Linked DNA regions of Homo sapiens. Each later gene encodes a partner of the first gene's protein in a complex. Each region holds a gene or a part of one and is shown in the gene's direction. Other genes may lie near its edges.

What was found.
Region 2: SF3A2 (region 1) and SF3A1 share a complex: the UniProt entries of both Homo sapiens proteins name them as parts of the SF3A subcomplex of the 17S U2 SnRNP complex.
Region 3: SF3A2 (region 1) and SF3B2 share a complex: the UniProt entries of both Homo sapiens proteins name them as parts of the 17S U2 SnRNP complex.
Region 4: SF3A2 (region 1) and DDX46 share a complex: the UniProt entries of both Homo sapiens proteins name them as parts of the 17S U2 SnRNP complex.

The regions. Positions count from the first base shown.
Region 1 is NC_000019.10:2,232,543-2,239,823, forward strand, and holds the start of SF3A2 (splicing factor 3A subunit 2), read left to right. Parts: upstream 1-4,281; 5' UTR 4,282-4,359; intron 4,360-7,281. Other genes in the region: PLEKHJ1 (pleckstrin homology domain-containing family J member 1), read right to left, coding at 1,456-1,519, 1,608-1,698, 3,220-3,286, 3,381-3,448, 3,613-3,706. UniProt on the Homo sapiens protein: Component of the 17S U2 SnRNP complex of the spliceosome, a large ribonucleoprotein complex that removes introns from transcribed pre-mRNAs.
Region 2 is NC_000022.11:30,346,874-30,353,894, reverse strand, and holds part of SF3A1 (splicing factor 3A subunit 1), read left to right. Parts: intron 1-822; coding exon 823-944; intron 945-7,021. UniProt on the Homo sapiens protein: Component of the 17S U2 SnRNP complex of the spliceosome, a large ribonucleoprotein complex that removes introns from transcribed pre-mRNAs.
Region 3 is NC_000011.10:66,055,343-66,062,363, forward strand, and holds part of SF3B2 (splicing factor 3B subunit 2), read left to right. Parts: intron 1-192; coding exon 193-243; intron 244-1,495; coding exon 1,496-1,613; intron 1,614-1,923; coding exon 1,924-2,033; intron 2,034-2,711; coding exon 2,712-2,808; intron 2,809-2,971; coding exon 2,972-3,063; intron 3,064-3,487; coding exon 3,488-3,703; intron 3,704-3,858; coding exon 3,859-3,996; intron 3,997-4,172; coding exon 4,173-4,253; intron 4,254-4,439; coding exon 4,440-4,667; intron 4,668-5,239; coding exon 5,240-5,389; intron 5,390-6,343; coding exon 6,344-6,433; intron 6,434-6,548; coding exon 6,549-6,656; intron 6,657-7,021. UniProt on the Homo sapiens protein: Component of the 17S U2 SnRNP complex of the spliceosome, a large ribonucleoprotein complex that removes introns from transcribed pre-mRNAs.
Region 4 is NC_000005.10:134,754,110-134,761,793, forward strand, and holds the start of DDX46 (probable ATP-dependent RNA helicase DDX46), read left to right. Parts: upstream 1-4,669; 5' UTR 4,670-4,829; coding exon 4,830-4,846; intron 4,847-7,684. UniProt on the Homo sapiens protein: Component of the 17S U2 SnRNP complex of the spliceosome, a large ribonucleoprotein complex that removes introns from transcribed pre-mRNAs.

The DNA.
Region 1 (7,281 bases):
CTAGACGCTGTAATAAACAGACTGTTTTCACTCGGACCTGGTGTGAATGGCAGCCTTTCTTCCAGGTGGCATGAGGCGTCTCCTGGCGGCCAGTGAGAGGCCCCGGCTAGTGTGTCATCGCCGAAACGGGGAGTGGAGGGCCTAGGGGTGCTCCTAGCAGAAGCTCCGGGGGCTGACACCAGGACACCCTGGCCTTGGGGAGGCTTATGAGGGCACCAGGCCACAGGCAAGGGGAGGCTTATGAGGGCACCAGGCCACAGGCAAAGTGCCTTTTGATGAACGGAAAACCAGATCTGCGACCCCAATGACATCGGCAAAGTCCTTTTCACATCAGATGGACCAAAGCCCGCCCAGGCCCCAGCCACACTCCGGGAGGGCCCGTGAATGCCAGAGGCAGGACCCCAGGTCACCACAGGATTCCTGATACCACACAGCAGCTCTGTTCTCCCCAGGCCTGGGTCCCAGCCTCCACCTGTCCTGGCTGGGGGTTCTAGCTCTCCCCTCAGTGCAGGAGGCCCAGCCACTGCCTCTCAGGACCCTGAGCCTTACTTCCCTTGGGTGGGGGCTCCCTGGCTGCCCCTCCCCTCTCCTTCACTTCACCGCCATCCAGTGTGGAAAAGAGGTACCTTTATTTGAACAGAACAAGCACCCTGGCCCCAGGGCAACCACTTCCCCAGGTGCACAGCCAGGGCCCTCCTGTCTGCAGGAGAATTCACAGCTGGTGTGGGACTCAGCCCCTAGGCCATTCACAGCTTTGTCTGGCTCTGTACATTCATTCAGCACGGGGCAGGGGGGCCATGCCACCAGCCTGGGGGCTCACCAGGCCCCTGGATGCACACAACTCAGGCAGGGCACCTGTGGGAAGGCGCATATCCTGGCGGCAGCAGCACGTGGCACCAGGTGCCAGGCCAGTTAGGTGGATCCTGGGGCCCCAGGGAGCGCAGCTTGCTGGGCAGTTTCATAAAATGCAGCCCCTGCCCACACCCACCTGGCTTCAGGCTTTGGATGTCTCCAAACCAAAAACCTCCCACTGAAAATCCAGGTGTGATGGCCGGGTGTGGCGGCTCATGCCTGTGATCCCCGCTACTTGGGAAGCTGAGGCAGGAGGATCACTTGAGTCCAGAAGGTCAAGGTCACAGTGAGCTGTGGCACCACTGCACTCTAGCCTGGGCAACACAGTGAAACCCTGACCCAAAAACCAAAAACCAAAACAAAACAGATCCAGGCATGGCCAAGCGATTCATGGCTGGGCAGGGCCAGTCCCGTCCCGCTGCACGCTGACCACCGTGCCCTGCGCTCACGCCTGCAAGCCACTCAGCTGGAACCTGGCCTCCTCGGATATGCCGAACTGTTCCAGGGGGTCCTGTGGGGAGGACGGGTGGCCATGAGCCAGGGCTGGAGGACTGCCTCTGCCACCTGCAGCCCCACCCCGGCCCTCTGCAGCCCTGCACACACCTTGCCCGTCACCTTCCGGATTTCGTTCCTGTAGAAGATGAGGCTTCTCCGCATGAACTCGTAGCTGGGGAAAAGGGTGGCACGGGGTCAAATGCCCGCTCTGCATGGCTGCTGTGCCCACCCCAGCAGTGCCCACCACCGCCTGGCCCCACCTGGCCCGACGCAGAGCCTCCATCCACTCCTGACACTGCTCCTCGCTGCTGCACTCAAAGTGATACTTCCTCTCAGGGTCCTCAATGAAGCCTGGGGATGGAACACCTGTGGTCGGTCCTACCCACAGCCACAAGCAGCTTCCTCTTGCCATTGCCCATAAACTGTCCCTTCTCTGGCCCCCACAAAGATGTGTTCATGTCCTGACCCCCCAGAACCCATGAGTATGGCCCTGTATATAAACAGGGTCTTTGCATATAAACTAGTCAAAATGAGGTTGTCGCCAGGTGCGGTGGCTCATGCCTATAATCCCAGCGCTTTGAGAGGCCAAGGTGGGAGGATTGCTTGAGCTCAGGAGTTCGAGACCAGCCTGGGTGACATGGCAAAATCCCCATCTCTACAAAAACAAAAATTAGCCAGGTGTGGTGGTGGGGCCTTGTAGGCCCAGCCACTCCGGAGTCAGAAGTGGGAGGACTGCTTGAGCCAAGGGGGTTGAGGCTGCAGTGAGCTGTGATCACGCCACTGCACTCCAGCCTCGGAAACAAAAGATCCTGTCTCAAAAATAAAGAGGGCCGGGTACGGTGGCTCAAGACCGTAATCCCAGCACTTTGGGAGGCCGAGGTGGGAGGATCACCTGAGGTCAGGAGTTCGAGAGCAGCCTGGCCAATATGGCGAAACCCCGTCTCTACTAAAAATACAAAAATTAGCTGGGCATGGTGGCGCGTGCCTGTAGTACCAGCTACTCGGGAGGCTGAGGCAGGAGAATCACTTGAACCCGAGAGGGGGAAGTTACAGGGAGCCGAGATTGCACCACTGCACTCCAGCCTGGGCGACATACCAAGACCCTGTCTCAAAAAATAAGCAAATAAAATAATAAAGTGAAGTAAAAAGGGGTTGTCAGGGTGGGCCCTAAATTCTGCTTGGCGTCTGTGTAGAAGGGGAAATGTGGGCACAGACGTGATGCAAGGAGGACAAGGTGACGCTTCCACAAGCCAAGGAACCTGGAGGATACTGGCCACCACTAGGAACTGGGAGATTCCCCTCGGCCTCAGAAGGATTCGGCCCCACCCACACCTTCATCTAGGATTTCTGGCCTCCAGAACTGTAGAGAATGTTTCTGATATTTAAGCCACCTGGCCTGTGGAATTTTGACAGCCACTCTGGGCAAACTAGCAGGGACTCCATCTTTCCCCGCAGAAGGGAATCTCTTAAGACCCAGGAGAACACCCCCCTCTCACTCCTCCTACCCCCACCTGGGATTTCCAGCCCGGGGCCATATAACAATGCTAGACCCATGCTACTCTTGGCAGCTGGGGAAACGCTTTGGGTGGGGCTGGCCCACCTGCCCTGTAAGTACAGCCTGGGCCCACAGGGAACAAAGAGCAGAGTCTGGGAGGGACCCAAGCTTAAGTGGACTCGGCAGGTGGGAAGGGTGGTGCCCGCCAGGAGAACTTGACCTTGAGCTGCCCGTGGACAATGCACTCTTGTGTTTGAGGAGGGTGGCGCCAGGCTGGGGACACAGAGGAGACCTTGGGCGCCCGGGGAGGGGAAAGTGCGGCGCTGCGGGTGCCCCGGGCTGCGGGAAGCGCCGCTGGCTTCCCTAGCCCCACTCACTGATGGAGAAGGTGCCGGGCTCTTCCCGGACGACTCTGCAGCGCTCCAGCAGCAGGGCTCCGACGGGCTGGAGGAGACACGGGCGCCGGGACGGGGCAGTGAGCACCCGGCCTCCGAGGGGCCCAGCCTGGGACCCGCCCGCGCGCCCGGGACGCCCCTACCTCGGCCTCGTCTGTCCGAAAGTAGAAGAGGAAATTCACCACCAGCTTCACCAGCCGCCGCTTCAGCACTGCGGGCACAGCGCGCACTCAGGGGCGCAGGCAGCCCCCGCCCGGACCCCGGCCTCCCGTCCCCGGCGCCCCGACCCGGACTCCGGCCTCCGGCACCCCCGCCCAGACCCCGGCCCCGGCCTCCCGCCCCTGGCACTGTCTCGGTCTCCCGGGTCCCGCTCACCGCTGCCCTTCTTGGGGCCCCTCATGCCCAGCTCGGCCGCCATCTCGGCCGGCTGCCGGGACAGAGCCTGCAGCTCCTTCTCGTTGTACCGCATGGCTCCGCGGGGAACGGGAACCCGGGCCGCGCCCTCCCGGCCGCCGTCCCCGCTCAGGCTGGGGCCGGCGCCAAAAATGTCTCAGGGCGCAGACACGGAAGCACCCCCAGGGCTAGTGCGCCTGCGCACCTTGGGCCAGCCATGCCGCCCGCCTCCGCTGCGTGGCGCTGGCGACCCGTGGCTGCTGGCGTGGGCGGGGTACCGGTTGGTAGGAGAGACGGACCGTTGTTACATAACCATTAAACTGAAATAAACCGGACCAAGGTGGAACAGAATCAAGGCACCCCAGCGATGGCTGGCACCCCTTTCTAGAGCGGCCAGGCGCAGGCGGAGGGAGCGATAACGTCGCCCGGAGAGTGTCAGCCGCTCCCTCGCGAAAGTTGGCCCCGTGCGGCCGCAGCGGACCGAGGGTTCGTTGAGAGCGTTGTGCGCACGCGCAGTTTGCCTTCCAGGCCGCGCTTTCAGCCTCTCCCCCTCCAGCCTTTTCCTTCGCGCCTCGGGACCCTCTGACTCACGCCGCTGGGCGGGCCAGGCATGCGCACACCAGAGGGCCCGTCTCATTTGCCCCGGAAGTGCTTTCTTTGCCCGCCGTTCGCCAAACGAAGTCGTGGAGGTGGCGAAACGAGGAGGAGATAACGCGGCCTTGGGCTCTGGTGAGGAGTAGAGGCGGTTGAGGGCGGCGGCCGACGCGGACCGGGGGTTCCCTGGGGGACAGCGGACGTAGGAGAGAGGCGCTTGCGACAGGCCGCGGGCCGAGGGTGGGGCGGCGGCGTCGCTCCCCTCCCTCCTCCCGTGAGCGTCCGGCCTTGTGCATCCTGAGGCCCCGCGCTGGGCGGGCCTGGAGGGTCGGGCCCGCCAGGAACTCTATTTCCAAACTCCTGTTGGGAGGCCGCGCGCGGGGCCTCACGCCTGTAATCTCACTGCTCAGGGAGGCCTTGGCGGGAGGATCGCTTGAGGCCAGGAGTTCGAGACCAGCCTGGACAACACACCGAGACCCCCATCTCTACAAAAAATTTTAAAAAATTAGCCAGGAGTGGTGGTTGTACCTGTAGGCCCAGCTACTCGAGAGGATCGCTTGAGCTCGGAATGTCGAGGCTGCAGTGAGCCATGATCCCACCACTGCACTCCAGCCTGGGCAACATAGCGAGACCCCATCACTGCAAAAAAAAAAAAAAAAAAAATTAGCCGGGCGTGGTTGGTGACGCGCGCCTGTAGTCCCAGCTACTCTGGAGGCTGAAGCGGGAAGATCGCTTGAGTCCAGGAGGTCGAGGCTGCAGTGAGTTGTGATTGTGCCGTTGCACTCCAGCCTGGACAACAGAGCAAGACCCTGTTTGACAAAATAAAAAAGAAACAACCAAGATTCGTTGGGGTCGAATCGGGATCGCGGCTGAAATGGTTTCGGCCGCCTTCCTTGTAGCCGAGAACGCTTCTGTATGCTCATCTATACCTGTTAGTTGACTGGGGCTCTGTGATGTAATTCCTGTGAGCCTCAGTTCCCTTAAAATGGGAGTGACGGCTTCAACATCATGCCAAAGGCGACCAGAACACGTTAGCTGGCCCCATTTTGCAGGTGCACCCCGCTGTGACCGTTGTTCTTGTGTATCCTTGGACGACACCAAACAGCCAGGCGGAGCTCTGGAAAATAGGTTGTTGGCTAGGTTAAGGAGAGAACGGTGTTGCCACGAAAAACTAATTCCTTCTCAATGGTCTAGTCCCAGGTCCCAGAGGCCACTTTTCCTCAATTCTTAAGCTCATTTCCCCTGGTCGTCATCGGTTTTTTGTTTGTTTTGAGACAGGGTCTTGCTCTGTCACCCAGGCTGGAGTGAGTGCAGTGGTGCAATCACAGCTTACTCCAGCCTCAAACTCCCATGCTCAAGCCATCCTCCTGCCTCAACCTCTCGAGTAGCTGGGATCACAGGTGCTCACCACCATGTCCGGCGAATTTTTGTATTTTTTGTAGAGACGAGGTTTCGCCATGTTGCCCAGGCTGGTCTCGAACTCCTGACCAGGTGATCCACCTGCCACGGCCTCCCAAAGTGGTAGGATTACAGGCATGAGCCACTGCACCCGGCTAATTTTTGTATTTTTTGTAGAGATGGGGTTTTACCAGGTTGGCCAGGCTGTCCCCTGATCTTTACCTTAGTAAGTAACAGATTTCTTCATGGATTTATCAATTTGTAGACATCATCTGCTGATTTCTTGTCACGGCTGTTGAGATCTTCTCCCTCCCATCCACCCACTGCACCTTCACCTTCCATATCCTGAATGAGTTTATGTCATGAGCATAGTTGGTCATTGGTTGTGTTTTCTAAATAAGATGCAAAATATTGTTGGCTGCTAAAACAAGTAATATGTTCAGCTAGGCTTTTCTTGTACCATTCTATCTTCCCTTAAAGCTAATTAACTTTGTTTTTACCATGAGCCTGATTTTCTTTTACCTGCTGTTTGTTTTTTCCCCACAAAGCTCCCACCTCTCACACACCTATCAGTTGTATTTTGCATAGGTTTAAATAAATTGATCTCCCCTCACCACTTCCCTCCAAGACCCCCTTATCCTCCTCCTCCAAATGGGACTGGTTGTGCTCTGACCTGGAAGTGGAGCTGTTGTCCCAAACCTTCCTGTCCTTGCTCCCCTGTGCTGACCTCTGTTTCCAGTGTGGTCATCTCTTTCCCTTCATGCTGTCCGAGCAAAACTTCTGGGAGCTTTTGAAGAAACAGATGATTTTTTTCGGGGGGTGGGGGAAGTCCTTGATTGTCTGAAAACGAGTTTATTTACCCTCATAGTTAGAAGTTTGGTGGGGTATAAAAATCTAGATTGAAAATCTGTATTTGTAGGCCGGGCGTGGTGGCTCACGCCTGTAATCCCAGCACTTTGGGAGGCTGAGGCGGGCGGATGACCTGAGTTTGGGAGTTTGAGACCAGCCTCGCCAACCTGGCGAAATCCCATCTCCACTAAAAATATAAAAATTTGCCAGGCGTTTTGGCATGTGCCTGTAATCTCAGCTACTCGGGAGGCTAAGGCAGGAGAATGGCTTGAACCTGGGAGGTGGAGGTTGCAGTGAGCCAAGATCGAGCTACTGCCTGGGCGACAGAGCGAGAATCCGTCTCAAAAAAAAAAAAAAAAAAAGAGAGAGAAAAAAATCTGTATTTGCTCAGAACTGTGAAAGCATTGTTTTCAGTGCTGTTCTCAAAAGATCAGTTCCTATGCTGGTTTCTGATGTTTTCTGCTCAGTTGTCTTTCTGTCTAGTAGAAGCTTAACATCTTCCTTGGTGTCGTAAAATTTCCTGATTTCCTCATTTACCGGGGATCTTTTTATTTGCTGATCCTGGTGGGTGCTTGGTATCTGGACAGTTTGGTTCCTTTAGTCCTGGGTTTTGTTTTTGTTTTTAATTTTCTTGCTAATGTTCTTATGTTATTTCTGTGATAATATTTTTCCTGTTTTATTTTGTTGGGTGTTTTTTCAGTTCTCACTCTGGAATGTCCTCTAGGTTCTTGCTTTTCCTCCTGTTTTTTTAACTTTTGACTTTCCTTTATGAAAGATTTGTTTGGCTCAGCTTCCAACTCTGGTATGGAA
Region 2 (7,021 bases), on another chromosome or scaffold:
GGAACATGGTTTCTCAGAATGTAGTCGGAGTCCCTGCATCTGAATCACCTGGGCATTTGGTAATGTAGCAGGACGAGTCGCAGACAAAACTCCTCAGACACCGGATTAAAGAAGGAAGAGGTTTTTTATTCATCCGGGAGCGTCGGCAGACTCGTGTCTTAAGAGCCGAGCTCCCCGAAAAAGAAATTCCTAGCCCTTTAAAGGGCTTACAACTCTAAAGGTCTATGTGAAAGAGTCATAATAGATCAAGTAAGCGTGAGGAACGTGACTGGGGGCTACATACATCAGCTAACAGAACAAAAAGTTTTACAGTGCTTTCTCATACAATGTCTGGAATTTACAGATAACACCAGTAGTTTTGGTCAGGGGTTAATATTATTATTATTTTAACCACCAGGGCCAGGTGGTGGCACCAAGGTCGTCTAGCTATTTATCTTACTTCTGTTTCTTTCCAACTTTTTGCTTTCTCCCTTTTCTCCTGTCTTATAAACTAGGGAAAAGGGGAGGTTGGGGAGAAACTGGGAAGGACAACAGGAGAAGTGCTGGTCTCATACCATAGTAAAAATGCAGATTCCTGGTCTCACTGAGATAGTCCAGTGAGAGAGGAGCCAGGGAAGCTGCTCTTCTCCCTGGGTCCCCAGGAGCAGCCCCTGCAGGTGCAGTGAACTTAAGAGAACTGCTTTTCTGAAGTAGAGGGTTCTAACCTGAGGGAAGTCTGTGAATGAAAGTCTACTCTGAATGATATCCTAGAGGAGTTTTACAGTGGAGAACCTGCTCTGAACCAGGGACTTTAAAACCTTATTTCTTTTCCTGTTTGCACAGCCCACAGAAGAAGAAGCATCTTCAAAGGAGGATTCTGCACCTTCTAAGCCAGTTGTGGGGATTATTTACCCTCCTCCAGAGGTCAGAAATATTGTTGACAAGACTGCCAGCTTTGTGGCCAGGTAACAGAGCTACTTGGGTGGGTCAGAGGTGGGTTTCAGCATGAAGAGACTTCAGCACTGAATCAGCACAAGGGTTTTTAAAGAGACGTTGTTGGCTTGGGCCTTTTAGTTCATAAAAAACCACAACATGGCACTGGGGTAGGCAATAGGTAGGACTGGTGTCCCTGACACAGCATAGCAGTGGCCAAAGTGAGAATCACACTTAGCCCCACAGTCACCAGGAGCCTCTGCTTCTAAAACTGGCCTGAGGAAATGCCTGGAAAGCTGCTTCATCACAGATGGTGTGTGTCTGTGCCTGAGCTGCTGGCCTGAGGAAGATAAAAAGGGGAGTTTATTATTCTCATTGTACAAAGACCACATTCCAAGAGCCTCAAATGACCCATCTGCAAAATGGAAAAAATGCCATCTCAGAGTTGTTGTGAGGCGGGAGTGAGGTCATGGGGCTGCATGCAGTTCAGTTCCACGCGGGTGCTAGTCACCTCCTCAGATGGCATGGGCATTGCTCCGAGTTCCTCCTGTCTCTCCTCACAGTTCCATGCAGGTGCTAGCCGCCACCTCAGATAGAATGGGCATTGTTCCGAGTTCCTCCTGTCTCTCCCCACAGTTCTGTGCAGGTGCTAGCTGGCTTCTCAGATGGAATGGGCATTGGTCAGAGATCCTCTCTCTCCCCACAGTTCCATGCAGGTGCTAGCCGTCTCCTCAGATGGAATGGGTATTGCTCTGAGTTCCTCCTGTCTCTCCCCACAGTCCTGTGCAGGTGCTAGCTGGCTTCTCAGATGGAATGGGCATTGGTCAGAGATCCTCTCTCTTCCTACAGTTCCATGCAGGTGCTAGCCGCCACCTCAGATGGAATGGGAATTGCTCCGGGTTCCTCCTGTCTCTCCCCACAGTTCCACGCAGGTGCTAGCCGCCACCTCAGATGGAATGGGAATTGCTCCGAGTTCCCCCTGTCTCTCCCCACTGTACTTACCCTCACATCCTTAGATGGAATTTTTTTACTGGCCCCTTGACTCCAAAGGTCAGTACATTCTCTAGGGTATTTAAGGTATTCCTTTGGCAGCCCTCAGTCCATGTCCAGCCTACAGATGTTTTGTTTGTCCTCACAGTAATTTTTTCGAAACTCAAATTTGTTGCTACTATTTAAAAATGAGGAGGTCAGGTGCTGTGGCTCTTGCTTGTAATCCTAGCACTTTGGGAGCCCAAGGTGGGAAGATCACTTGAACTCAGGAATTTGAGACTAGCCTGGGCAACATAGTGAGACCCTGTCTACAAAAAATAAAAAGTTATCTGGCTGTGGTGGCATGGGCCTGTGATCCCAGCTACTTAGGAGGCTGAGGCAAGAGGATCGGTTGGGCCCAGAAGGTTGAAGCTATAGTGAGCCATGGACTCTAGCCTGGGTGACAGTGAGACCCTGTCTCAAAAAAAACAAAACAAGTAAAAATGAGATTTCACAATCAGTCTGGATTTCTGGACAGTTCCTTCATGTGTGGAAGCAGGCCCAATCAGCATGTGTTCTCCAGGGACCACGTCACCCCCCTGAGGCAGTGTCTCAGTCAGTATGCATCATTTAACGGATGGTCCTTCCTTTCCCAACCTAATAAAATTAGACATAAAGATTACTTTGGTTAGACTTTCTTTTTTTTTTTTTTAAATGACATGGAGTCTCACTCTGTTGCCAGGCTGGAGTGCAGTGGTGCAGTCTCAACTCACTGCAACCTCTGCCTCCTGGGTTCAAGTGATTCTCCTGCCTCAGCCTCCCGAGTAGCTGGGACAACAGGCGTGCGCCACCACGCCCAGGTAATTTTTGTATTTTTAGTAGAGACGTGGTTTCACCGTGTTGGCCAGGCTGGTCTCAGTCTCTTGACTTAATGATCCCCCGACCTGGGCCTCCCAAAGTGCTGGGATTACAGGCGTGAGCCACGGCACCAGCCTACTTTGGTTAGACTTTCACTATGTCAGCTCTGCAGATTCATCTCATTACATTTCAAGGGCTTTGATTACCTTTGAGTATTAGGTTGAAAGCTTCTCTGTGCTTGATTGAACATTGTGATGATGTTGATTGGGTCATGTCAGATTTAGACAGTGTTGTGTTTAAGATAAATGTTTAATGGCTCTTAGCAGTGTTCATGCCTCCCCTTTTCCCCTGATACTTTAAAAACAGAATATACAGAAAAGGGGAGTTGGGTGAAGAATCACCATATTCTCATTACCAGAGTAGTGTCTACCAGCTGTTTTCACATTTTTCTGTTTCCTTCTGTCCTTGGAATCCTTTTTTTAGATCCTTGTAATACTAGTAAAGATATTCCACTCTGTGTTGTAAGCATTTTTCCATTTTGCTCCATGGTCTTCATAATGCCCTGTGGTCCTTTATTAAGGGGATGCACCATGTAGAGGTGAAAGGCTTTCCTTGACTTGGCCACCATTTCTGTATTTTCCTTAGAGGAGGAGGTTTCCAACATTTCTTTTTTAGAGACAGAGTCTCGTTCTGACACGCAGGCAGGAGTGCAGTGGCATGATAACAGCTCACTGCAGCCTTGAACTCCTGGGCTCAAGTTATCCTCCCACCTCAGCTTCCTGAGTAGCTAGGACTACAGGTGCCTGCCACCACACCCAGCTAATTTTTTTTTTATTTTTTTTATTTTTTTTAGTTTTTTTGTATAGATGGGGTCTTTCTGTGTTGCTCAGGTTGGTCTTGAACTCCTGGCCTCAAGTGATCCTCATGTCTCAGCCACCACAAGGTGGCTGGGATTACAGGCAGTGACCACCGCACCTGGCCTGTTCCCAACATTTCATTTTGGCAAATTAAGCTGTGGGGAAATCTCTGAGCATTTTCTTTCCCTTTTAGATCGTTTCCTTAGAAGAAAATTCTGTGTGGCTCATTATTGGCTAAAAGAGCATCCTTAAAAGATTTCTTAAACATTTTGCCAAGTAGCTTTCCAATAATTTTGTGCCATCCTCTGCTGCTAAAGAAATAAGAGGATATCCAAGGTCCCTTTAAATATATATGACCAGGTTAGGTGGCTCACGCCTGTAATCCCAGCACTTTGGGAGGCCAGGGTGGGAGGATCGCTTGAACCCAGGACTTGGACACCAGTGTAGGCAATATAGTGAGACCCCTGTCTCTACAAAAAATAAAAAAATTAGCTGGGCATGGTGGCGCATATCTGTATTTCTAGCCACTTGGGAGGATCACTTGAGCCTGAGAGGTCAAGGGTATGATCATGCCAGCGTACTCCAGCCTGGGGCGATAGAGCAAGACCCTATCTCAAAAAAAAAAAAAAAAAGAAAGAAAAAAATCCAAAACCATGCACATCCCTAGATTGATTTTTAGCTATGGTGATTGCTTTTGTAGGCATTTCTAAAATCTGTGAGCCAGTGTGGTGGCTTACACCTGTAATCCCAGCACTTTGGGAAACTGAGGTGGGCAGATCACCTGAGGTCAGGAGTTCAAGACCAGCCTGGCCAGCATAGTGAAACCTCGTCTCTACTAAAAATACAAAAAATTAGCCAGGTGTGGTGGCGGGCGCCTGTAGTCCCAGCTACTTGGGAGGCTGAGGCAGAAGAATCGTTTGAACCCGGGAGGCAGAGGTTGCAGTGAGCCAAGATTGTGCCACTGCACTCCCACCTGGGTGACGGAGCGAGACTCCGCCTCAAAAGTAAATAAATAAATAAAATCTGTGAACTTATCGTTTACATTGCAACAAAGAGACCAATATCCGAGTTAAAGCAGGCATGCAGAACTCTGTGCTTCACTTCTCCTGGGTTCACGTATATTTATGGAGCATGCAGTAGAAATGCACAACTGAGCGGTTTTCCAAAAGTTTTTTCGCTAGGTTAGGCCTTTTCATTTCCTGCATGTTCCTGTCAAGAAACTGAAGTGGAAATTACCCTTAAAAAGTCCCACCAGCTGGGTTGAGTCAGAATCATGTCTTTTTCTGTTGAAATCTATTCCTTCTGGTGGAGAGTATGATTCTAAAATTAACGTTAAGCTAATTTAAAGCAACTGAATAGCTTGGAATGAACATGCCAAGCCTTCTCATTGTTTTATTTTTCAGATTGTTCCCAGATGGGGTAAAGTTATGGCTTAGGCAGTGGTACAGGAGACAACCAGGGCCCCTTTTTCCAGGAGCCCTTTGTCTGCCCGAGGCATTTGCTGGGTATAGTGGCCTAGTTTAGCAGGATTTAAGTGTGCATTCACCTTCATTCTTATGTGTGGTTTGCATTATTTAAGGAGTAGGGAGAATTTTTTTTCCAAAGCATGAGGTTCCAGTTAGACTAATATACTGTCAAATTGAGACCTCATGGTGTTAGTTACACGGCAGGGTATGACCACGACTTGCTGAGGAGCCAGCCTGGGTGTCGATCACTAGTGTGGCACATAATTGCTGTGGTGGTTGATCTGGGGCACAGCACTGCCTGTACCCTGTCTCCTGCCATCTGTCTTAAAAAAAATTTAAAAAATTTTTGTTTTCAGAGGTGAAATTTCATTTTGTTGCCCAGGCTTGGGTATGATCTTCTGGGCTCAAGTGATCCTCTCGCCTCAGCCTCCTGAGTAGCTGGGACTACAAGTGTGCGCCACTGTGCCGGGCTCCCACCCCCTCTTAAACTCACAGGCCAGGGATATGAAAGTCTGAAGAGTGGAGCTGGCTAGCTGGCACCAGATGCCGGGGCCATGCCTTGGTGTGTTTGGGGCAGTTCTAAGTACAAGGTTCTCGCCAGAGGAGCAATGGAAGGCCCCACAGACAATGTTTATGGAACAACCCCTCCTAGCCCCTTGCATTTGCAGGCCACTGTACGATTTGAAAAGACTTTGAGGGCTGGGTTCAGTGGCTCACGCCTATAATCCTATCACTTTGGGAGGCCAAGGCGCTTAAGCGCAGGAGTTTGAGACCAGCCTGAGCAACATGGTGAAACCCCGTCTCTACAAAATGTAAAAAAAAAATTAGCCGAGCATGGTGGTATATGCCTGTAGTCCCAGCTACTCAGGAGGCTGAGGTGGGAGGATCCCTTGAGCCCAGGAGGTGGAGGTTGCAGTGAGCTGAGATTGTACCACTGCACTCCAGCCTGGGTGACAGAGTGAGACCCTGTCTATAAAACAAAAACACTTTGGCATCTCCTCAATAATGTTTCAAGGTAGAAAGGGAAACTGGTGTTAGCTGCATTTTACACATGGGGAAATGGAAGCAAAGAGTAGTTTGGTAACTTGCTGTGGGTCAGAGTGAGTCAGCAGTGAACCTGAGACTTGAACGTGTTCATATCTTGTGTCTTTAAGGTCCGTGTACTTTCTGACTGACACAGGTGTTGTATATAAGTGTGGCACTTTGAATATTACTGTTGGGACATTTTAAAAATCAGGGTTCCCTAAACATCATTATAGGGACATTTTTTCATTATCCTGAGGTTTTGAAGGCTTGCTGGGGACATGGGGCATATCTGGGGAACCATCCCAGGTACAGACAGTGGTTGGAGACCTCCCTGCTGATCTTACCACACCCCTGTCATCTGAAGGTGCCTTATACAGCTGTACGAGTCTGGGTTTTTGCTGAGGATGTTTCCTGTGTGGGCCTCACCAGTATAATGGGGGTGGTTTTAGGGAGTACTTGGACAAGGCGTTAAACCAACTATTTGTTTTTTGTTTGTTTGTTTGTTTCTTAAAGACAGGGTCTTGCTCTGTTTTCCAGGCTGGAATACGGTGACACGATTCTAGCCCACTGCAGCCTCAGACTCCTGGGCACAAGTGATCCTCCCACCTCAGCCTCCTGAGTAGCTGGGACTAGAGGCACACACCACCATGCCCAGTTAATTTATTTTTATATTTTTTTGTAGAGTTAGGGTCTTTTCTTGTTGCCCAGGCTCAAATCAACTAAATTTTCATGTCTTTCAGTCTTTCTTGTTACTCAGAGGACAAAGTCTAGGTTTGGTGCTCATGTACCTTTTACACCTCTCCAGCACTTGCTACCCCTTTGAACTAAGAGAATTAGTCTCAGCAAACTTCCAGCTAAACTTTGACAGTATTACTTTGTTTTCATTATGTTCACTTTTGACTACCTTTTGTTGGTAAAGGCATACTGATTTTT
Region 3 (7,021 bases), on another chromosome or scaffold:
GACTCATTAGGTCCCTGAAGGGGCAGTGGAGCCTTAGAGAAAGCTGGGTCCTAGAACTAAGGCTTCTGGGAAGGTCGGGACTAAAGATTGGAACATGGGCCCTTGACTGGAAGAGGATCTCAAGAAGCAAGAGTTGTGGCAGATTGGCGTGTTGGGTATTGGTGCTGGTATGAACTTGTTTTCTTTTTTAAGCAGGGAGATCATTCGCTGAAGGAACATGAGCTCTTGGAGCAGCAGAAGCGGGTAATACCCCTCCCCCTAACCTTTGACCTCGTGGTCCAGTCAGTTGGCTGTCATTTATAGTGCTTAGAGTGCACCATTCAAGTTTTCCCTGGAGGCTACTTTGTTCTCAACTAAGTTCTAGTATCTTCCAAAGCTTTCAATTTTTCTTGAAGTTCAGGAATTGACAAACTATGACCTGTGGCCTGCATGTGTATGGCCTATGAGCTAAAAATAACTTTAAAATTTTTTAAGGGTTATAAGAAAACCCAAACCAAAAATATGTACCAGAGTCTGTACAGCAACCCATAAAGCCTAAAATATTTACCTTCTGACCTATTATAAAAAGAGCCTGCTGACCTCTGCTCGCCTTACATGACATCATTCTAGATAGGACTCTGGGTAATTGAGTTATTTGTATTGGATTTAGACAGAATAGGACTGTAAGTCTGGGAATGTTATATAAGATGTTTGGCCCCAGAGGTGCATTGCATCAGTCATTACCCAGTGGGTTACTCAGGAGTATTAAAAAGTAAGTGTTAAAAAGCAACAAGTATGAGCTGGGTGCCGTGGCTCACACCTGTAATCCTAGCACTTTGGGAGGCTGAGGTGGGTGGATCGCTTGAGCTCAGGAGTTCGAGACCAGCCTGGCCAACATAATGAAACCCTGTCTCTCAGAAATACAAAAATTAGCCAGGTGTGGCGGCGCATGCCTGTAGTCCCAGCTACTTGGGAGGCTGAGGTGGGAGGATGGCTTGAGCTGGGGAGGCCGAGGTTGCAGTGAGCTGAGATCATGCCACTGTACTCCAGCCTAGGCAACAGAGCCAGACTCTGTCTCAAAAAAAAAAAAAAAAAAAAAAGCCACAAGTCTGGACCTGTGGGTAAAGTACTGTCTTTGCCCAGATTGTGCTGGATCTTGAGGGGTGGATATAAGAAAAGAGCTCAAAAGTTTCTTCTGTATAATTTAATCTTTTGGGGAAGAAAACTCTCTGAAAAGTAGAAGGCACTGTTTGGCTCAATATGAAATTCTCTGCTAGGAACCAGAAGTTTCCTGGGGTTTTCCTTGGTGTTATTTCTAGGGATTTTCCGTTGTGATGAGAGGGCTCCTCCGTTTGGATTAGTAGCCTGGAAGTGTGGGGGTGGAGGGGATGTCAGCACCCAAGTGGTTCGTGATTGTTCTCCTTGGGCCCATTACCCGGCTGAAAGAATGCATTTGCCAGGGGCTGCCTGCCAAATGCGTTTTCAGGCAGTATCTACTCCCACTTCCCTCCCGTAGGCAGCTGTGTTACTGGAGCAGGAACGACAGCAGGAGATTGCCAAGATGGGCACCCCAGTCCCTCGGCCCCCACAAGACATGGGCCAGATTGGTGTGCGCACTCCTCTGGGTCCTCGAGGTGAGACCCTGGAACCGAGGGGAAGGGCAAGGAAGGTGATTTAGACATTTTTAAAAAGACTTTTAAGGTATCTATCACATTTAAAAAGGGCATATATAGTAAATATATAGTTTAATGGTTTTTTACACACTGAACACACCTGTACAACCAGCACCTGGACCATGATCCAAAACATTACCAGCATTCCAAAAGCCACGCCACGTGCCCTCCTCCCCTGCAGGTTTACCATCACCCTTTCAGCAAGAGAGGTAATTTTTTACGTGAGTGTTTTGCCTCTTCTGACATTGGATTTCTTTTTCCCGTCTCTTAGTAGCTGCTCCAGTGGGCCCAGTGGGCCCCACTCCTACAGTTTTGCCCATGGGAGCCCCTGTTCCCCGGCCTCGTGGTCCCCCACCGCCCCCTGGAGATGAGAACAGAGAGGTGAGACTGATGATTTATTCCTAGGGATAAGAGAGTGGTAGTTTAGGATGGGACTATTTTTGGATTTTTAGAGAAAGGTTCTGTGAGAAGATGGGGGGACTTAAATTCCTGGGGGTAGTGGGGAGCCCTTCTTATTTAAACTAAGGGTATGGCAGAGGGACTGGGGAGACATTACTGAGGCAGAGTCTTGGGGTCCCTCTGAGGAACACTAAACCCCACTGAGCCCAGTTGGTGTTGCCCACTCTCTGCTGCTTACATCACCTGGGCAGCAGCCTTTCTAGTCCAAGAGGTGGAAGTTGGTGGAAAAAGGGCACTGTGGGCTGGGTGCGGTGGCTCACACCTGTAATCCCAGCACTTTGGGAGGCCGAGGCGGGCGGATCACCTGAGGTCAGGAGTTCTAGACCAGCCTCAACATGGAGAAACCCCATCTCTACTAAAAATACAAAATTGGCCAGGTGTGGTGGTGCATGCCTGTAATCCCAGCTACTCGGGAGGCTGAGGCAGGAGAATTGCTTGAACCTGGGAGGCGGAGGTTGTGGTGGGCCGAGATCGCGCCATTGCACTCCAGCCTGGGCAACAAGAGCAAAACTCCGTCTCAAAAAAAAAAAAAAGAAAGAAAGAAAAAAAAAAGAAAAAGGGCACTGTGATTTGCCTTCTCTGACTGGGTGTCTCTGGCAGATGGATGACCCCTCTGTGGGCCCCAAGATCCCCCAGGCTTTGGAGAAGATCCTGCAGCTGAAGGAGAGCCGCCAGGAAGAGATGAATTCTCAGCAGGGTGAGTGCCAGGCGTTCTGATGCTGTAGCCACAGAACCTGGAGAGGCTGAGCTGAGTCCTCATCCCTCTGTCCCTTTCCCTGGCTCTTGGTAAAGGCAGGTTACTGTGAACGAGTGCAGGGCAGTGGCACCGTGAAGACTCATCACCACCTTCTTCCTTACAGAGGAAGAGGAAATGGAAACAGATGCTCGCTCGTCCCTGGGCCAGTCAGCGTCAGAGACTGAGGAGGACACAGTGTCCGTATCTAAAAAGGAGGTAGGGATTGGAGCTGAGTGTGGAAGGAAAGCCAGGAGATGGGACTTGGGTACGGAAATAACACAATTTGTAAGTGTTCAGTAAGTAATAGCTTCTATTTTGTGCCAATTTCCGCCCTCAGCATCTTATAGATATTTTTCATTTAATTGCTTTGAGTTCCAAGTACTATACGTGCCTACATTTTACAGCTGAAAAAGCAGAGGTTCTGAGACGCACAGTAATTTACCCAAAGGCATACAGCTTGTGAGTGGCAGAACTTTGGAGTCTGACTCCAAGGCCCCTTCGCAGCTACTTCATGAGATGGCCTCCTTGGGAAAAGCCTGACTGTTGAACTGTGGGGGAGAATGGGGGAGGAGTTTAGGGGTTGGGGTGCTGGCACAGTGCTTGGATTCCCTGACCCAGCTGGTTTTCCTCCTCTTGACAGAAAAACCGGAAGCGTAGGAACCGAAAGAAGAAGAAAAAGCCCCAGCGGGTGCGAGGGGTGTCCTCTGAGAGCTCTGGGGACCGGGAGAAAGACTCAACCCGGTCCCGTGGCTCTGATTCCCCAGCAGCTGATGTTGAGATTGAGTATGTGACTGAAGAACCTGAAATTTACGAGCCCAACTTTATCTTCTTTAAGAGGATCTTTGAGGCTTTTAAGGTACAAGGAGAGCACACTAGGAAGGGGCAGTGCCAAACAGGGAAGGGGCTCAGAGGTGGGTGAGAGGCAGCGGTGAACAGGCATCTTTTAGTGCTGGCCTTAGGAACTGGGAAGGGGCTCAGAGGGCAGGGGTTTCACCTTGTCTGCCTCCTTAGCTCACTGATGATGTGAAGAAGGAGAAAGAGAAGGAGCCAGAGAAACTTGACAAACTGGAGAACTCTGCAGCCCCCAAGAAGAAGGGATTTGAAGAGGAGCACAAGGACAGTGATGATGACAGCAGTGATGACGAGCAGGTCAGGCCCAGCCCTCCTGGTGGGAAGCAGGGACTCTGGGCACAGGTGGCTGAGATGCATCCAGAGAGGGACCATGGTGAACTCTTACAGAGCTTTGGTGGCTTAAGGTTGGGGTGGGTTGGGCAGTTTCATTCACATCTGAGTCCTGCTTAAAAGGGCTGATTGTTCTGTTCTAGGAAAAGAAGCCAGAAGCCCCCAAGCTGTCCAAGAAGAAGTTGCGCCGAATGAACCGCTTCACTGTGGCTGAACTCAAGCAGGTAAGACCTGAGAGGATCCTGCAGGCCCTGGAGCCCAGCTGGGAGACCACCTGGGGAGCCAGGGAGGTGAAAAGGAGTTCTTTGAAGGAGGTGTGGGTGATTTGGGTTTGGGTCCTTTGAGGAAGAAGAGCTTCAGAACTGAGAAGTCGGGGCTCTCGAGAACACGCATTACTATGTGTTTTCCAGCTGGTGGCTCGGCCCGATGTCGTGGAGATGCACGATGTGACAGCGCAGGACCCTAAGCTCTTGGTTCACCTCAAGGCCACTCGGAACTCTGTGCCTGTGCCACGCCACTGGTGTTTTAAGCGCAAATACCTGCAGGGCAAACGGGGCATTGAGAAGCCCCCCTTCGAGCTGCCAGACTTCATCAAACGCACAGGCATCCAGGAGATGCGAGAGGCCCTGCAGGAGAAGGTGAGGGCCTGGCAGGGCTCAGACCTGCCCCCGGGTGTCCCCATCCTTCATAGCAGTGTGCTTCAAAATGGGAATCTGGTTTGAAACCCACCTACCACCTACTTGTTACTTGTCTAATTATCCTTTTGTTTTCCTCCTCTGCTCTTCCTCCCCTCTGCCTTCACTTTGCCAGCTCACCTGGTGACTCCTTTCTCAGATGTACTTTGTGGCTAGAGATTCGTGGTGGTTGTGTAACTTCTTAATTTTAAAGCTTTTAGTTAAATGCTTTGAATTCAGGAGGTAGAAAAGAACATGGGGAAGTCTCTGCTTTCCAGAGAACTGTTGAGATTCATCTCTTGATGAGATGGTTTAAAAACTAGTTATTGATATACACGGCTGAGGCTGATATTGTATAGTCTGTTTTGTTCAGTATGGATTATGTAATTTTGAAAGGTTTTAGCAGGAAGGATTTTGATGACTTTCAGGGTGAGATAATTGAGGCTTCCCATGATCTCATTTGGAGTTGGGAGCTGGATTCTCTACATGAATTTGGTGAGTACTTGTTAAGGCTTGTTTGCTGCCATTCTCCACAGGAAGAACAGAAGACCATGAAGTCAAAAATGCGAGAGAAAGTTCGGCCTAAGATGGGCAAAATTGACATCGACTACCAGAAACTGCATGATGCCTTCTTCAAGTGGCAGACCAAGCCAAAGCTGACCATCCATGGGGACCTGTACTATGAGGTTCGGGAGGGGGCTGGGAGAGGTCAGGCTGGGCCTTGGGGTTGAGACTGTCTAGGGCTTTTTTTTGTTTGTTTGTTTGTTTAAAAAAGATGGAGTCTCACCCTGTTATCCAGGCTGGAGTGCAGTGGTGGGATCTCGGCTCACTGTAACCTCTGCCTTGGGGGCTCAAGCAGTCCTCCCATCTCAGCCTCCTGAGTAGCTGGGACCACAGGCACACCACACCTGGCTAATTTTTTGTATCTTTGGTAGAGACAGGGTTTCGCTATGTTGCCCAGGCTAGTGTGGAACTCCTGAGCTCAAGTGATCCACCCGCCTCAGCCTCCCAAAGTGCTGGGTTTATAGGCATGAACCACCGCACCTGGCCAAGGAGGGCTTTTGAAGCAACTACGATAGTTCCTCAGCCTTAGAATTGCCCATCGACTACCCTCGGATGAGATGGAATTTAAAAATGAGGCTCTATTTGGAGGAGAGATGCAGATCTGGTGGCTTCTTTCCCTGATAGACTCTTCGTATCCTGTCTTAGAAATGATAATAGTTTGTGGTAGGTGGTTTAGGGATGGAGGGGCCAAGGGGCAGATGCTTTTAGGAAACTTTTAATATTGGGAGTGGTAGAGAAATTGCTGGTTTTTTCTGATCCTTGAAATCGTAGTCACCATGATGTCATGGAATTTATGAGGTGGAAGAATTTTGCATATCTTCCTGTCGAGTGCCCTCATTTTACAGATGAGGAGGCAGGTCCTAACGTTGGCCGTGTTCTCATAGTGGGTTATTGACAGCACTGTGAGTCTGGCCTGGTTTTTATTCCTTCCCCGACTTTGGCCAGGGAAAGAAGTGATGAGAATCAGAGTGGGAGCCAGGTAGCCCTCACTGGGATTTTATATCTGATGTGCGTTAGGATTGTGCTCCCACTGAGTGTCTGGGTCTACAATGTAGCATGCTCTGCTTTTCCCTCAGGGGAAGGAGTTCGAGACACGACTGAAGGAGAAGAAGCCAGGAGATCTGTCTGATGAGCTAAGGATTTCCTTGGGGATGCCAGTAGGACCAGTGAGTGTCAGTTAGCTGTCTGGGGAAGCAGCGAAGAGGCTGGTGGGGATTGGAGTGGAAGGCAGAGACAGGGATAGGGTTTGGCAGATGGTATCCTGTTCTCTTTTTCCTGCAGAATGCCCACAAGGTCCCTCCCCCATGGCTGATTGCCATGCAGCGATATGGACCACCCCCATCGTATCCCAACCTGAAAATCCCTGGGCTGAACTCGCCCATCCCTGAGGTGAGCATTGTCCTTTCGTTCATTCTTGGCCATTTCTGCTTTTGAACTGGAAGGTAATTTGTTTGTTTTCCTTCTCTAACTCCACCATGTGTCTCTTTATTTACTTAAAAAATATTTTATTGACATAATATTTGTCATATACCATGTGTATGTGTAGAAAAACAAATAATGGTTTTTGTTTTTTAAAGAAACTGACATGCTCATCATAAAATATTCAGTCAGAATTGACAAGTACAAAGATGAAAGCAAGTCACAATTTTACCACTCAGAAATAGCCAAATTCACTGTTTGGTGAATGTGTTTCCAGATATGTCTCTGAATATTAAGAATGACCAGAGAGAAATAATTTTATCTCAGCCAGATGT
Region 4 (7,684 bases), on another chromosome or scaffold:
ACAGATGCATGCCACCACATCTGGCTAATTTTTTGTATTTTTAGTAGAGACAGGTTTCACCATGTTGGCCAGGCTGGTCTCGAACTCCTGGCCTCATGTGATCCACCCACCTTGGCCTCCCAAAGTGCTGGGATTACAAGCGAGAACCACTGCGCCTGGCCTGGGAATTGAAGTTTCTTAGTGTTTGGAATAGTTTAAAACGTTTTTTATTTGGAAATTTCTGGGTTTTGAAATGTATATGGACTGGCTGGGCACCATGACTCATGCCTGTAATGCCAGCACTTTGGGAGGCCGAGGCGGGTGGATCACTTGAAGTCAGGAGTTTGAAACCAGCCTGGCCAACATGGTGAAACCCTGTCTCTACTAAAAAAACCAAACCAAAACAAAAAAAAATTAGCCAGGTGTGGTGGCGGGCGCGTCTGTAATCCCAGCTACTCAAGAGGCTGAGGCATGAGAATCACTTGAACCCGGGAGGCAGAGGTTGCAGTGAACTGAGATCGCGCCACTGCACTCCAGCCTGGACAACAGAGTGAGACTCTGTCTCAAAAAAAAAAAAAAAAGGTATATGGATTAAAACTAGAGGGACAAGGATGGTTGTTTAGAGGTGACATCTTGACCATGTAACCTAGTAGTTTTTTTAGTTCAATTAGTTGTGTAAATGGACATGTGTCATCACAGTTGGCACTAAAAACAGCAAGTGGGTTATTAGATATTCAATACTGGGTTAGTAAGTCAAGTCACAGTCAAAATCTGCTGCTTTGGAAAACAGGTTAGTTTACTGAAAGTGATGTATTAGAACACAGACTATAGTCATTTCTTTCACCTATCTAAATAGATAAAATCTTCCAGCCTCACACCTGTAATCCCAGCACTTTGGGAGGCCGAGGCAGCAGATCACCTGAGATCGAGAGTTCGCGACCAGCCTGACCAACATGGAGAAACCCCGTCTCTACTAAAAATACAAAATTAGCTGGGAGTGGTGGCTCATGCCTGTAATCCCAGCTATTTGGGAGGCTGAGGCAGGAGAATCGCTTGAACCTAGGAGGCAAGGTTGCAGTGAGTCGAGATCGCGCCATTGCACTCCAGCCTGGGCAACAAGAGTGAAACTCCGTCTCTAAAAAAAGAAAAAAAAAAGCCTTCCTCCAGGACAGACTTGATGTGAATTTACTATAAATATATTGTGGTGGAGTGGGGGTGGTGCACACCTGTAATCCCAGCACTTTGGGAGGCCAAGAGAGGCAGATCGCTTGAGACCAGGAGTCCAGGAGTTTGAGACCAGCTTGGGCAACATGGCGAAACCCTCTCTATGAAAAATACAAAAGTTAGCTGGTGGGGTGGTGTGTGCCTGTAGTCCCAGCTACTAGCTACTTGGGAAGTTGAGGCACAAGATTCGCTTGAACCTGGGAGGAGGCTGCAGTGAGCCGAGATCACAGTACTGCACTCCAGCCTGGGCAACAGAACCAGGCCCTGTCTCAAAAAAAAAAAAAAAAAAAAAAAAAATATATATATATATATATATATATATATATATAAAATATATATTCTATATATATTATATTAATGTAATATTAATTAGAATATATATTATATATATAAGAAATATTTAAGCCAGTTAGAATTGTCTTGTTAATGTGTTGTCTTAAAGGGGAGTTGGAAATAAAGTATCTTGAAGACAGCTCTGGCCTAAGTGTCAGATCTCTGGACTCTAGTTCCAGGTTAGATTCCAACAAGGTTAGTGATCTAGGATGAAATATGTTTCCTGAGTCTCAGTTTTGTTACTTAAAATCAAGAAGTTTGAGTTTGTGATTTTAAAAATCTATAACATTAATCCCATGATTCTTTTTATTATTATTTTTTGAGACAGAGTCTCGCTCTGTCGCACAGGCTGGAGTGCAGTGGCGCGATCTTGGCTCACTGCAACCTCTGTCTCCCGGTTTCAAGTGATTCTCATGCCTCAGCCTCCCGAGTAGCTGGGATTAGCACGCACCACCACACCCAGCTAATTTTTGTATCTTTAGTAGAGACATAATTTCACCATGTTGGCAAGGCTGGCCTTGAAGTCCTGCCCTCATGTGATCCACCCGCCTCAGCCTCCTAAAGTGCTGGGATGACAGTCATGAGCCACTGCATCTGGCCCTAATCCTGTGATTCTAAGCAATATTCAAATTGTGTTAATTTCAAAAATTAAGGACTTATTTCCATTCACTTCTGCATGGCCTCATCCAGTCCATGGCTTCAAATACTGTGTATTATACATTCTATAAAATGCTGAGGACCCATATCTCTCCCGCCTCTATTTGTAGCTGTTATTTCCTGGATGTCTAGTAGGCACCTCAAATATCACATGACTGAAACAAACTCAATGACTTTCTCTATTTCCTCCACTAAATCTGTTGCTTCCATGCTTTTCTCATCTCCACAAATTCACCACAGTCCACAATAGCTCTGTTGAAAACCTGGCAGTCATCTTTTATTCCTTCCTTTCCGTCATAGCTCACATCCAGTTTATCTATTGGCGCTTTGAGAGCTGCTTCCAGAATACACCCAGAATCTGATCACTTCTCAGTCTTCATTGTTTAAGCCACTGGTGGTTTTCTATGTCTTTTAGGTTGAAATCCACATTCCCTACCTGCAGCCCACATCCAAACAATTTACAGGGGGATTCCTAACCCTCCTTGGTGTCCATCCTGTCACTCATTAATTAGCTCAGGCCTTCTTACCCTTGGCATGGACTGCCAGAACCTCCAGTCTCTATCCCTCTTCAATGCTTCTCGCAGCTACCACAGGTGGGCAGCAAGCCACGGGGGGCGTGGGGAGCATAAACTCATCTTGGAGTGTCACTCGTTGGTTTGCTTTTTTTCTTTAATCAACTATGTTGAGGTAAAATTTACATACAATAAGTCATGTACAGTTAAAGGGTACAGTTCAGTGAATTTTGAAAAATGTGCAAATCTATTCAATGACCACTAAAATCAAGACACAGAACTTTTCCATCATCTTTAGGTGTAAGAAAGTAAAATAGTACAGAGGCAAGTAAAGTAAAAATATGAGCCTTTCTCCAACTCCATTATAGCTTTTTGCAAAAACAACTCAACATGGCCGGGCACGGTGGCTCATGCCTGTAATCCCAGCACTTTGGGAGGCCGAGGCGGGCAGGTCTCCTGAGGTCGAGAGTTCAAGACCAGCCTGACCAACATGGAGAAACCCCATCTCTACTAAAAATACAAAATAAGCTGGGGTGGTGGTGCATGCCTGTAATCCCAGCTACTTGGGAGGCTGAGGCAGGAGAATCGCTTGAACCCAGGAGGTGGAGGTTGTGGTGAGCTGAGCTCTCACCATTGCACTCCAGCCTGGGCAACAAAAGCGAAACTCCGTCTCAAAAAAAAAAAACAAAAAAAATTCAACATTTCTGTGTGTGTTGCATGAGACAATACATATACATTTTTTTGGTGCCCAAACTCTCGAATAATGTTCTCAATCTTGACTGTACTTCAGAATTACCTGGGAAGCTTAAAAATTCCCAGTGCACAAGAAGCACTCCAGGCCAATTAAATCAGAACATAGGGGTGGAACCCAGGCTTCTATTTTATTTACTAATATTTTAGAGATGAGATTTCTCTGTGCTACCCAGGCTGGAGTCATCATAGCTCACTGCAGCCTCAAACTCCTGGGCTCAAGTAATCTTCTTGCCTCAGCCTCCCTGGCTCAAATGATCCTCTCACCTCAGCCTCCCAAGTAGCTAGAACCACAGGCGTGCCAGCACACCTGGCTAATTATTTTGCTTATTTTTTGTAGAGGGTCTCGCTATGTTGCCCAGGTAGGTCTTGAATTCCTGGGCTCAAGCCATCCTCCTGCCTCGGCCTCCCAAAGTGCTGGGATTATAGGCATGAGCCACCATGGCTGGCCCTTTTTTTGTTTTTTTGTTTTATTTTTAAGCTTCCCAGTGCAAGCAATGTTGAGAACTAATCTTTTGCCAAAGTATTTTTAGCTCTTTGTTCTCTACTAGGTTAACACCTACCGGGTCTTCAAATCTCACCTCAGAGTTCACTTCCAAGGGAAACGTGTTTTCTGAATCCGTCTCCAATGGTGGACTCTCCTTGCTGTATTACTTCTGCTTGTGTTTTTAGTCAAGTCTATTATTATTACTATTTTCTTTGCAGAGACGAGGGCTACGTTGCCCAGGTCTTGAATTCCTGGGCTCAATAGATCCTCCCGCCTCAGCCTCCCAAAGTGCTGGGATTTCAGGCGTGAGCCACTGTGCTGGCTTTAGTCATCTGTTTCCCGGATAGACTGTGAGCTCCCCAGGATCTAGCACAAGCCTGGCATATGACAACATAAATAAATGAGTGAATGTATACATGAATAAAGAGCGTGTACGGAGAAAGTTGCCGCATTATTTAGCGCAAATTAAGGCAGACATCAGCCTGCCCAGGACGCCTCTTTGGCTCTGGCGCGAAACACCCTCACGGGCCGGCGAGGCTGACGCGCTGCGCTCCATCGCACTAATCAGCCGGGCGTGGTGCGGGCGCCGGGAAGACTGGGCGGGGCGAAGGCATCACCTTTCGATGGGGCCGGCGCTGTGCGTCCTCCAGTCGAGGTGGGGCGCTGTGGAAGAGCGGCAGCTTCCGGTCGGCTTTTCTCTTCCTTCGGCTGCCGGCGCCAGCACGTCCTGTTTTCGTTGGCCGCGCTGGGATGGCCGCCACAGCTGTAGGTGCTGCTAGTGTTTAGCGCTGGTCTTTGCCGGGCGTTGAGGGCAGCTCAGCCTCCTTGTTTGTCCGGTTCGCCTGTGCGTGGTACTCAAGGGCACCAGTATTCCCGCGGTCGGCAGCATGGGTCGGGAGTCACGGTGAGGCAGAGCGCCGAGCGGGCTAGCGGGCGAGCGGCTTCTTGGGGTCGTGAGAAGAGGCGGGAGTTGAGGTGGCCGCCGGGCCAGGCCTGGCGCGGCCCCACGTGCGGTCAGCGCTGCCCCGCGAGCATTGGAAGGGCTGGGGGACCTCGGCTGAGGGAATGGTTGTGTTTGGGCCAGCGACGGCTTCCCCTGCACTACCATCAGAGGGTTCGAGCCCCTGGAGCGGGAACAACCCTCCAGGACGTTAGTGATTGGGCACCACATCCCGCCACTTCAAGGGAGCCTGCCCTGATTACTTCAGTCAGAAGTGATCCCAGTTGGATTGCTTATTGCTTCGCGTTTCCAACATTTCCTCGACTCCTGTCATTCTGTATTTTAGTTCTTTGTGCGCGTATGATCTTTTCCCAAGTTACTTGAAAGGAGCGTGTGGGCAGACATTTTTACCGCATCGACAGCACTATACACGACTAGGCTTTTACTGGGCTACAATAAATACTTGTTGCGTGGGCATTTACTTCGCAAATAGATTTCGTATTTAAGCAGGTAACTTTGTTACCTGCTTTTCTGTCCTTTTGAAGTTGTGGACTATGAGCTCTTATTAGAACTCATTAGATCTCATCACAACTTTAGATTGTTGATAGATTGTTAGGAACCTTGAGATTTTTATGTTAAAAATGACTATTTGCTATGTATTTAGCAATGACTGAAAGATATTTTATGTCTAGGAACAATGAAGGCTTTTGTTGTTAGTGCTAACAGTTCTTTGTTGAGGTACAATTAACAATCAGGGAAATGGACAAAACGTAAGGGTAAAGCTTGATGAAATTTAGCAAATATATAAACCGTGTAATCATCACCTGGATGAAGATAAAAAATATTTCTTTAACTACAGAAAATTCCTGTGACGGTGTTTTAAATCTCCGGAAGGCTGTCCAGACCAGAAATCTGAAAGTGATATTTATTTGACTCATTCTTCTCTCTCACTACCCACAGCCTGTTAGATTCTACATCCTTTGCCCATTCTGGTTGTCCCTGACTTAATTGAGGCCCTAATTATTTATTGTCCAGACTACTACATCTGTTTTAAATTGATTCTCTGAATTGATTGTCTTCCTCTGTTGCTCTCCTAATTGTTAGATCCCTTACACTACAGCCAGAGTGACACTTCTGAAGTAGAGATAAGATGATGGCATGCCCCTGACTTAGTCTCCATTGGTTTCTACTGCTTCCAAGATGAAATTTAAACTCTATGACAGCCTTCAAGGCCCTTCACAAGAAGGTCCATTCTAGCCCGTCAGCCTTCTCCTTTACCTCTCTGGTGTGCATGGCCTGTGCTCTAGGTTTGTTCAGGGAATCATGAAAGGCTTAGAGGTGGGAAGGCGCAAGGTGTTAGAGAAATAGCTAAAAAGCCCAATTTTTCTGCATATGTAGGTTTCATGAAGGGATTTTATCTTTTTTGAGAAGTAGTAGGAGGTAGGTCCTGAATAGGACTTGGGCCCAGAAAGCGGGTGGATTGTAGATTTTGAAGATCAGAATTTGTTTGTGAACCTTTGAAGATTTTGAGTAAAAAGTGTGTAATAGAATCAGAATTCTCCTTAGCAGCAATGAGTAAGATTTAATGGAAAAGTAATAGAAACAGGAAGACTACAGTCTTTAAGAATCTCCTAGGTAGATATGTCTGATATAGAATAGTGACGGTTGGAACTCTGTGGAGGTGATATAATGTGAAGGGAATTACAGAGGTGAAATTGGTATTACTTGGTTGTTTTTTTGTTTTTGTTTTTGTTTTTGAGACAGAGTCTCGCTCTTTCGCCAGGCTGGAGTGCAGTGGTGGGATCTCGGCTCACTGCAAGCTCCGCCTCCAGGGTTCACGCCATTCTCCTGCCTCAGCCTCCCGAGTAGCTGGAACTACAGGCGCCTGCCACCGCGTCAGGCTAATTTTTGTATTTTTTAGTAGAGACGGGGTTTCACCGTGTTAGCCAGGGTGGTCTCGATCTCCTGACCTTGTGATCCACCCGCCTCGGCCTCCCAAAGTTCTGGGATTACAGGCGTGAGCCACCGCACCCGGCCTGTTTTTTTGTTTTTGAGACAGGGACTTGCTCTGTCTCCCAGGCTGGAGTGCATTGAAACAATCTTGGCTCACTGCAACCTATGCTTCCCAGGTTCAAGAGATCCTCCCACCTCAGCCTCCCGAATAGCTGGGACTGCAAGCGTGTGCCACCACGCTTTGCTAATTTTTGTATTTTTTGTAGAGACAGGGTTTCACCATGTTGCCCAGGCTGGTCTCAACTCCTGAGGTCAAGCTCTCTGCCCACCTTGGCCTGCCAAAATGCTGGGATTACAGGCATGAGCCGCTGTGCCCAGCCAATTGGTGTTTTATTTATTGTATCGAATGAGAGCAAGAGAAAAATATTGATGATGACTAATGTTTTGAGCCTAGTGACCGGAAGTTGGTACGATTAATCGTTTGGGGAGGGAAGGGTAACAAGTTTGGGTTTCTACAGATTGAACTTGAGGTGCTTGAGAGATAATCAGGTGCATTCATCTCCTAGTGATCTTATTTAGGTTTATAGCTTTAAATAGCCTTTGTACACTAATAGCTGTCCAGTTTATATTTCTAGAGAAACCTCTTCCTTGAACTACAGGCTAATATTTCAACTATATACTATATATCTCCACTTGGATACCTAATATTCTGATCCACCTTCTCCCTGGATTTCTCCCTCAGCCTTCCCATCTTGGTAAATGGCAACTGAGTGATTTCTCTCTTGCTGTCACACTTGACATTTAGTTCATCATTAAATCCCATCGGTGCTAGCTTCAAGATATCCAGAT